Linked DNA regions of Homo sapiens: region 2 is linked to region 1. The links come from fine-mapping of genetic effects on gene expression. A gene starts in region 1. The other region holds a variant in brackets. All regions are shown on one strand. Distances are between the middles of the regions.

The links. PIP is the estimated chance that this variant, and not a neighbour inherited with it, causes the effect. A credible set is the group of variants that fine-mapping cannot tell apart.
Region 2: its variant is the best candidate, but not a certain one, in a credible set for the expression of ABCA5 in whole blood (TOPMed, PIP 0.54).

The regions. Positions count from the first base shown.
Region 1 is chr17:69,325,232-69,329,626 of GRCh38, forward strand. ABCA5 (ATP binding cassette subfamily A member 5) reads right to left here and starts at 1,902. Exons shown (of 39, transcript NM_172232.4): 1 at 1,821-1,902. RefSeq lists silencers at 1,589-1,678, 1,809-2,188 and an enhancer at 2,269-2,408.
Region 2 is chr17:69,255,396-69,259,790 of GRCh38, forward strand. ABCA5 (ATP binding cassette subfamily A member 5) reads right to left here. Exons shown (of 39, transcript NM_172232.4): 28 at 4,311-4,395; 29 at 762-888; 30 at 338-455; 31 at 148-239. Among named protein-coding and RNA genes, the nearest start is that of PRO1804, 23 kb to the left of the region's middle. The variant G/C (reference allele first, on the strand shown) is at 1,730.

The DNA.
Region 1 (4,395 bases):
CTGCGAAGTCAAGGCTGCAGTGAGCCAAGATCCTGCCACTGCACTTCATCCTGGGTGACAGAATGAGACCCTGTCTCAAAAAAAAAAAAATGCTAGTTGTCAATATAATTTAACCTAAATTTTATCACAGTGTTTCTTGCTGAGGGAGAAAATAACAATGCAATGGTACACAGAGGACAAGTCATCCAATAAATTTTCTTATGCATAATAGGTCCTTAAAAGCTTGCCCTTAAAACTATTTTTAATCCAACTAATTTACATACTAGAAAAGTTATGACTTAGTACAATATCATAAAATTCTTTTATGCAATCACCCTCTCAACTAAACTCAAGGACAGAGATTATAAATTGTATTCATATCGGTACTCTTGGCACATAGTATGGTATCTGGAATGTAAAAGACATGCAACAAACCAGCCTGGGCAATATAGCAAGACTTCGTCTCTGAAAAACAAATAAAAAATTACCTGGGCGCAGTGACACACGCCTGTAGCCCCAGCTATTCAGCAGGGTCCCTAGAGTCCAGACGTTCAAGGCTGCAGTGAACTTTGATCGCACCACTGCACTCTAGCCCGAGACGCTGTCTCTTTAAAAATAAAAGACATGCAATACACATGGAATGTACTAATAAATTTGCTCTTATAGTGAATGTAAGATTTCCCTACACTAAATCTGTTTGAAAGGAAATATACTCAAACAGCACATATGCAAAGATTAACGCCTCTTTAGTTTGATTTTAACACAAATACCCACAAAGCCCTAACTGCCCTAATAATGTTCCCTACTATGGAGTCTTCCCTAAAACACATACAATATTGCTCTCCCGGCAAACACAAAATATACTAAATAAAGCACCAGAATTAGGGTCTGGCAGCCCGGGTTGGAATCTCAACTCCATCCTTTTACTAGCTGAGACCTTAATAAGTTACTTAACCTCTTTGAGGCCCATTCTCCACACCTGCCCAACTGGAATAACCCCCTCCAATCCTACAGGGTTGCTGTCAGAATGAAAAGAGCTAATACCGAGCCTGGCTTAAAGCTGTAGTCCAGCAAATACTCCTCTTCCCTTAGATTCCTTCAGAACGCCCTTGTAGAAAGTAAACGTGGTTATTATCTTCATTATTTTCGGACTTATTTATTTAAAACGTAAATCGAAGCCTGAGGAGCCCAGGGGAAAACCTCCTTCAGCTTAATAGCTCCAGCCTGCCCAGCTTTCCGATCCAATTAAGTATTTCCATGCCTGGAGCTCCTATTCGTGTTTTAGGATCAGGGAATTTCCCTCCCAAACTGTGTCATGAGATCTGCGCATTTTCTTCTCACTGAAACTCCTTTTAACACGCAAGGTAATGATCCGCGCGTAACCTCGCAGGGAAGAGCAAGCGCTCATTACCCAGCTGTTCAGACGGAAATTTACATCAATATTTGTTTTCCTTCTTTCCCTGAGGTTGCTGAGGGTGGAACGACAGCGTCCAGGCAAAGGCAGTGTCCCGAAGTCCCACGGCCGGACCCGGTCCCAGGGGAGCCTCGCGGAGCCCCCGCCGCAGGGCCCCGACCCCCTCACGTCCGCATCCTGGGCGCTCCCACCGCATCCCCGAGGCTGGCAACCCGCGCTTCCCGGGAGCTGAGGGAGGTCTGTTTCCCTCAGCTCGCCGCCTCTGCCCGCTTCCGAGCCCGCTTCACCCCACACCTCAGACGCCGAACTCCCCTTCTCTCCCCGCCGTCCCTCGCTGGCCAGCCCCTCCTCGTCCCCTCAACTCCCCCAGGGACGGCTGTCCCAGGCTAGCCTCAAGCGCCGCCGCCGCCCGCGACGCCCGCCTCACCTCAGGGCCCGAGCCGCAGAGCTGTCAGGCCTGGACGCGCTCAGTCTGTTGACTCAGTGCGGGTGACCCAGCTGGGATCTGTGCGAGGGCGCGGCCGCGCGCACCCGCGCGCTCCTGGCGCAGGCAGAGCTGGCGGCGCCGAAGTCGCGCCCCGCCTCCTGCAGAGCGCACCTGAGGGCGGGGCTCCTAGAAAGCGCCGCTCCGCGTACGGGCGCGCTTCAGACGCTCGGCCCCGCGCGTCCCGGCGCACGCAGGCAAGCAGCGCGCCCGGAAGAGGAGAGCGGCTGAGGGTGGGGCGAGCGGTGGCGCGCCGCTGCCCAGGGCCCCTGAGCCACTAGAGTCGGGCCTCGTGGCTCTTCCCCAGGGCCTCCCACGCCTGGGTTCTGCGGGGATCTCGCCACGCTCTTTCTGGAGGCACGGGCAAAAACCACGGCCTCGTGTCTCAGTGGTAAACCTGCCGCCTCTTAGCGGGTGACCTTGGCCCACGGCCCTCTCCTCATCTGCCTCGCCCAGTCACGTCTCCTCTTAAGCATCCTTGCCGTCTGTCTCCTGGCATTTGGATGGGCCTCTCTGAACGCGTTTTGAGTCCTCTGCAGCCCCGCTTCCTCCCGCCGCGGCATCTGGAGTGCTGTGGCCCCGTTTCCGTAACTCTTGCCTCCCCTCCCCAGCCTCCTCATTGGCCCTCACACCCCGACCTGGGAGGTCCTCCCACTGAGGGTGCTTGTAGTTCGCGGAGTGTCCTCATCAAAGACTGGGAATGCGGCAGATGCTGAATTTTCCAAACGGCCTGAGACACATGACATCTGTGAGAGACTGGATACTGCACTTACTTTGCTAAAAATATAATCTAGTGTTTTGAGCTTCATTACTCAAAGTGACCTAAATGGGGTCAAAAGTTATTAACACTAACATTACGTATTTTCCTCTCCACATTTCTGTATAGTCACATTCCCTTGCACAAAGACTTTTTTTTTATTCTGTCAATCCTGTGTACATCATGTTTTTTTTTTTTACTTGTCTTTGTGTTATCTGCTTCTCGAATTTAAACCAGGTCTCCCCAACATGCACTCTGCTTTCTAAATTCTTAGGGGAAAAACAAACAAACAAGGAATCAAGTTTTACTTATGGAATATGAATTAAATAGAAAATTCAAAGAGGTTCGTCAGAATCCTTGATGATTAAAACAGCGGTCCCCAACCTTTTGGGCACCAGGGACCAGTTTCATGGAAGACAGTTTTTTCTGGGGGAGGGAGGATGGTTTGGGGATGATTCAAGCACATTATATTTACTGTGCACTTTATTTCTACTGTTACTACACTGTAATATGTAATGAAATAATTATACAACTCACCATAATGTAGAATCAGTGGGAGCCATGAGCTTGTTTTCTTGCAACTAGACAGTCTCATCTGGGGGTGATGGGAGACAGTGACAGATCATCAGGCATTAGATTCTCATAAGGAGCACGCAACCTAAATCCCTCACATGCGCAGTTCACAATAGGGTTCTCGCTCCTATCACAATCTAATGCCACTGCTGATCTGACAGGAAACGGAGTTCAGGCCCTAATGCCAGCCATGGGGGGCCCCTGTAAATACAGATAAAGCTGCACTCACTTGCCCTCCGCTCACCTCCTGCTGTGCTGCTTGGTTCCTCGCAGGCCACAGATCCCGGTAGCAGTCTCTGGCCTGGGGATTGGGGACCCCTGGATTAAAAGATCTAGCAATGGGGATGGGGGAAAGGGAGATAAGTATATTCAAAAAACTACACCAGGAAACTAAAGAAGGCATGTAATGAAAACTATCCCTGATATATTCTGTCTCTTTTGGAAACATCTAGAACATTTTAGTTACAAATTCTCAATGGCCTAGGATTTGGGGCCAAGTAAAGAAATATACATGAAAGATAAACTTGGTTAACATGTTACTGAACCATACTTTCACCCCAACACTTCTCACTAGTAGCCTTAACCTGCCTTAACTTCAGAAGTCTACTCATTTCTACTACTATTCTAGGCATTTATTTCTTACATTTCTTATCCTTGTAATGTTCTCTGTCATTCATTCTGTCTGCTCATGCTTTTACTCTTGTTTCTAAATGACATGACCAAAACCCAATTCTCCAAAAATCTCATCACCCTGGACAAAATGATCTCACTCTCCTCCCAATTGCCTACATACTACCATCTTGTTCACATCATTTTATTTACTTACCATCTCTTCAATTAAATTGTAAATAGTCTTAGGTTAAGAGCTTTTTCTTGACTTGTCTTTTTCTTTTCTTTTCTTTCTTTCTTTATTTTTGTGACAAAGTTTTGCTCTGTCACCCAGGCTGGAGTGCAGTGCCATGATCACAGCTCACTGCAACCTCTACCTCCCAGGTCCAAGTGATCCTTCCATCTCAGCCTCCTAAGTAGCTGGGACTACAGGTGCATGCCACCACACAGGCTAGTTTTTGTATTTTGTTGTAGAGACAGGGTTTTTCCATGTTGCCTAGGCTGGTATCAAGCTCCTGGGCTCAAGTGATTCTCTGTCCTTGGCCTCCAAAAGTACTGGGATTACGGGCCTGAGCCATA
Region 2 (4,395 bases), 70 kb before region 1:
AAAAGATCATAATTTGATCAGGCTGTACAAAAAATTCTAAAAATATACATAAAAATTGAATATAAAATCCGAATTTGTCACTAAAAGTTTATGTTAATTAACAATATAAATCACATTCAACATATCCTATACTCTTATATATCATACCTGGCCTGAAGTTGGTTCAATATCACCAACCAGAATATTAATAATTGTGCTTTTGCCAGCACCATTTGGACCCAATAGTCCTAAGATCTCTCCTAAAGGAATTGAAAGAAAAAAAAATCATAATCAAATCATACTAAAAGTAGAAATTACTCTTCTAGAAAAGTTATGTAAGGAAAAATTAAATACCAGCCTTTTTTCACACAGAAAGAGATGTATTTAGTTGCCACTTTCTTTACTTTTCTTGAAAGAAGAAAATCTTTCTTGTCATCATATTCTTTATGCAAATTGCTGACCATAATGGATGGTTTCTAATAAGAAAAATTGTATTTAAAAAGAAAGTTATAAAACTTATCATGAAATGACAGGCTGCACATACCTCATATCCATATTACAAAAATTATATTGGCTAATAAGGGGATACTGTACAAATAAATATCCATTTATGACTGAAATTCTGGCTTATTCAAAAGTAAGTAAACGAAGTATTTTTTTCCAAGAAAGATTTTTTTCAGATTGCTTCATATGCAAAGAAAAATATTTTTCAGATTAATTTCTATATACCGGGAATTGATCATTTCATATTTACTATGACTTAGCCATAAAGAATAAATTACCTCCTCACAACACTGGCAACCCATCAGCTCTTTGACCTTTAGTCTTTCAGCTTTGACATCTTCATCTTCATCCTCATTGTCTGGTGGTTCTGGAAGCTTCCTATTTTTAGACTTCGTTGAAAGGTTTCTACATATATATAATAAATATAAAAGACAGTAGGTTTTCAAATAATTAAAATAGTAAGAAATTCAGATACTAGGTAGAGAAAAGACTGAAAAAATACACTAACATAAGATCTAGGATTATCTCTGAAAGGTGGAATTATAAGCGATATTTCTTTTTTTTTCTTTCTTTCTTTCTTTTTTTTTTTTTTTAAGACAGGGTCTCACACTCTGTTGCCCAGGCTGGAGTGCAGTGGTACGATCTCAGGTCACTATAACCTCTGCCTCCTGGGTTCAAGCGATTCTCCTGCCTCAGCCTCCTGAGTAGCTGGGATTACAGGCACGCGCCACCATGCCCGGCTCATTTTTGTATTTTTAGTAGAGACAGGGTTTCACCATGTTGCCCAGGCTGGTCTCAAACTCCTGGCCTCAAAAGATCCACCTGCCTCAGCCTCCCAAAGTACTGGGATTACAGGTTCAAGCCACCATGCCCAGCCACAAGCATTATTTTTCAATGACTGATAACATTTGGACGATATTATCTAAATTCATTCATTTATTCAACAATATTATTTATGACTAGTAGGTGTCAGGTATTATTACACAGAAAGAAAGATGAAAAAACATGAACCTTGCCCTCAAAAAATTTACAACCTGAGTATAAATGAAATTGCCCAGAAAGAGTAGATGTAGAGGGTTGACATCAGAACCCACAGTAACACCATTTTTAGGGATAGACAGAGGATGAAGTGCTTGCAAAGGCAATTTTGAAGTACAGAGGCAAACAGAAGACATAATGGAAAACAAAGGAACAAGAAAAATGTGGCCAGGCGCAGTGGCTCCTGCCTGTAATCTTAGCACTTTAA[G/C]AAGCCGAGGCATGCAGATCACTTGAGGTCAGCAGTTCAACACCAGCCTAGCCACCATGGAGAAACCCTGTCTCTACTAAAAAATAAAATACAAAAATTAACCAGGTGTGGTGGCACATGCCTGTAATCCCAGCTACTTGGGAGGCTGAGGCAGAAGAATCGTTTCAACCAGTGAGCTGAGATCATGCCACTGCACTCCAGCCTGGGTGACAGAGTGAGATTCCATCTCAAAAAAAAAAAAAAAAAGAAAAATGTGTAAGGAGAACAATGTCAATCATATTAAAGCCTGCAGATTAGTTAAATAAGTTGAGCCTATTAGACAATGAAAAGACAAAATCATTAGTTATCTTATTGAAAATAGTATCAATGGAAAGGTAAGGGAAAACCCAGATTGCAGGGAGTTATAGGAGTGGATGGAAGGTGAGTAACTGGAGATAGAAGAATTTTGGCTATGAAAGGAAAGAGAGATATAGAATAGGAATTAGGGATGGATTCATGTTCAAATGAGATCCATGGGTTCTTTCATATATGAAAGAAAGGTGACCCTCCCCAACCCCAAAAATATACCACTGAGATCCAGAAAGGAAAGAGAAAAAGAGAAAAAAATACACTATTGAGATCTAGAAAGGAAAGAGAAAAAGAGAAAAAATACACTTTTGAGATCCAGAAAGGAAAGAGAAAAAGAGAAAAAGAAAATTGAGCAATATTCCAAGTATATAGAATAAATGAAGATTTGGGTAATAGGATGGACTGCTGCTTCCTCTAGGACTGGGAAAAGGCAAAAATGATGGAAGATGTGAGTAAGTTTGTAGAAATTTATAACTTATAATTAAGTGCTTCTATTTTCTGAGATAAATGACAAGATTATTTACTGAGAAGTAGGAAGTAAGATAAGGTGATTTGAGGAATACAAGGAATAAAGAGAAAGCTTTGAATAACTATTGAAAAGAAAGAGATAAGAAGGTGCTAACTAGGAAAATGTTATTCGTTACCAAACAGTATTAAAATATAACTACCATTCAACCCAGCAATCCTACTACTGGATATATATCCAAAGGAAAAAAAAAATCATTACATAAAAAAGACACCTGAACTCATATGTTCATCATGGTACTATTCACAATAGCAAAGTCATAGAACCAACCTAAGAGTCCATCAACAGTTGACTGGGTGAAGAAAATATGGTACATATACACCATGGAATACTCCACAGCCATAAATAGAATGAAATTATGTTCTTTACAGCAACATGGATGGAACTGGAGACCATTATCCTAAGTGAACTAATTTGGAACAGACAATCAAATACCACATGTTCTCACTTATAAGTTCTCACTTATAAACAGACAATCAAATACAACATGTTCTCACTTATCAGTGGATACACATGAACATAAACATGGAAACACTAGGACTGTGGACTCCAAAAGGGGGTGGGGATAAGGGTTGAAAAACTACCTATTAGGTACAACGTTCACCATTTGGGTAATGTTACAATAGAAGCCCAATCCCCACCAGTATGCAATATACCCAGCTAACAAACATGCACATTTACCCCCAAATCTAAAATATTTTTTTTAAAAAACCAGCTGAATTTATATGGAATAAATATGTAGTATTATCAAATGGAACTTTTATGTTATTTTTTCCAGCATATAATTCGATTCACCAATAATTATAATTTTTAGTGGACAGTTCGAAAAGACAAAAGTTGAGGATGCTGAAATGATAATAAAGTGATGAATCATGTAAGCAAGGCTGGATAGAAGAAAAAGTAAAAACAAATTAGCTAATATATTTGGAAGAATATGTAAAAAAGACAAACAATAACAAGCATTGGCAAGGATGTGGAGAAAATAGAACCCTAAAACATTCCTAGCGGGAGTGTAAAATGGTATTACCACTTTAGAAACAGTCTGGCAATTCCTCAAATGACCCAGCAATCCCATTTCTAGGTATCCACCCAAGAGAAATGAAAATATATGTCCATACAAACAGTTGTATACAAACTAGCAACATTGTTCATAATAGCTGAATTCATAGCAGCATTGTTCATAATAGTTGAAAAGTAAAAGCAACTCATTAAGATATATAAAAAGTGCTACACACGACTACATGATAAGCCCTCCAAACATTATACTAAGTGTAAAACCATATGCTAGATACTAATTATAGTGCCCAAATCCTAGCAATTTTTCAAAGATGTTATCTGGCAAATCTGATGATTTTCCAACATTAAAATAACATGCCAACCAACTATGGTAAAAAGCAAACAGATATAAAAGTTAAATACAAGGTATTTAAGAGAATTGTTGGTCTTTTGACTCAAGTTTTCCAAAGCATATTTCCATTGTCCAGTTATATAAAGTGTTCAGAACAGGCAAATCTGACAGAAACAGAAAGTAGATTAGTGGTTACCTAAGACTGGGAGCTATGGGAATAGGGATAAGAAAGTGGCTGTTAATGGGTACAAAGTTTCTTTTTGGAGTGCTGGAAATGTTCCAAAATTATGTTATGGTAATGGTTACACAGTTCTGTAAATATACTAAAAACATTTAAAATTTTTAAAAAATCAACTGACCTGAAAAAGGGATCTTTTCTTATTGATCTGCCTCCATATTTTTTCTCATAGTATTGTAAGAGGAAAATCCACAGTACACACTGCA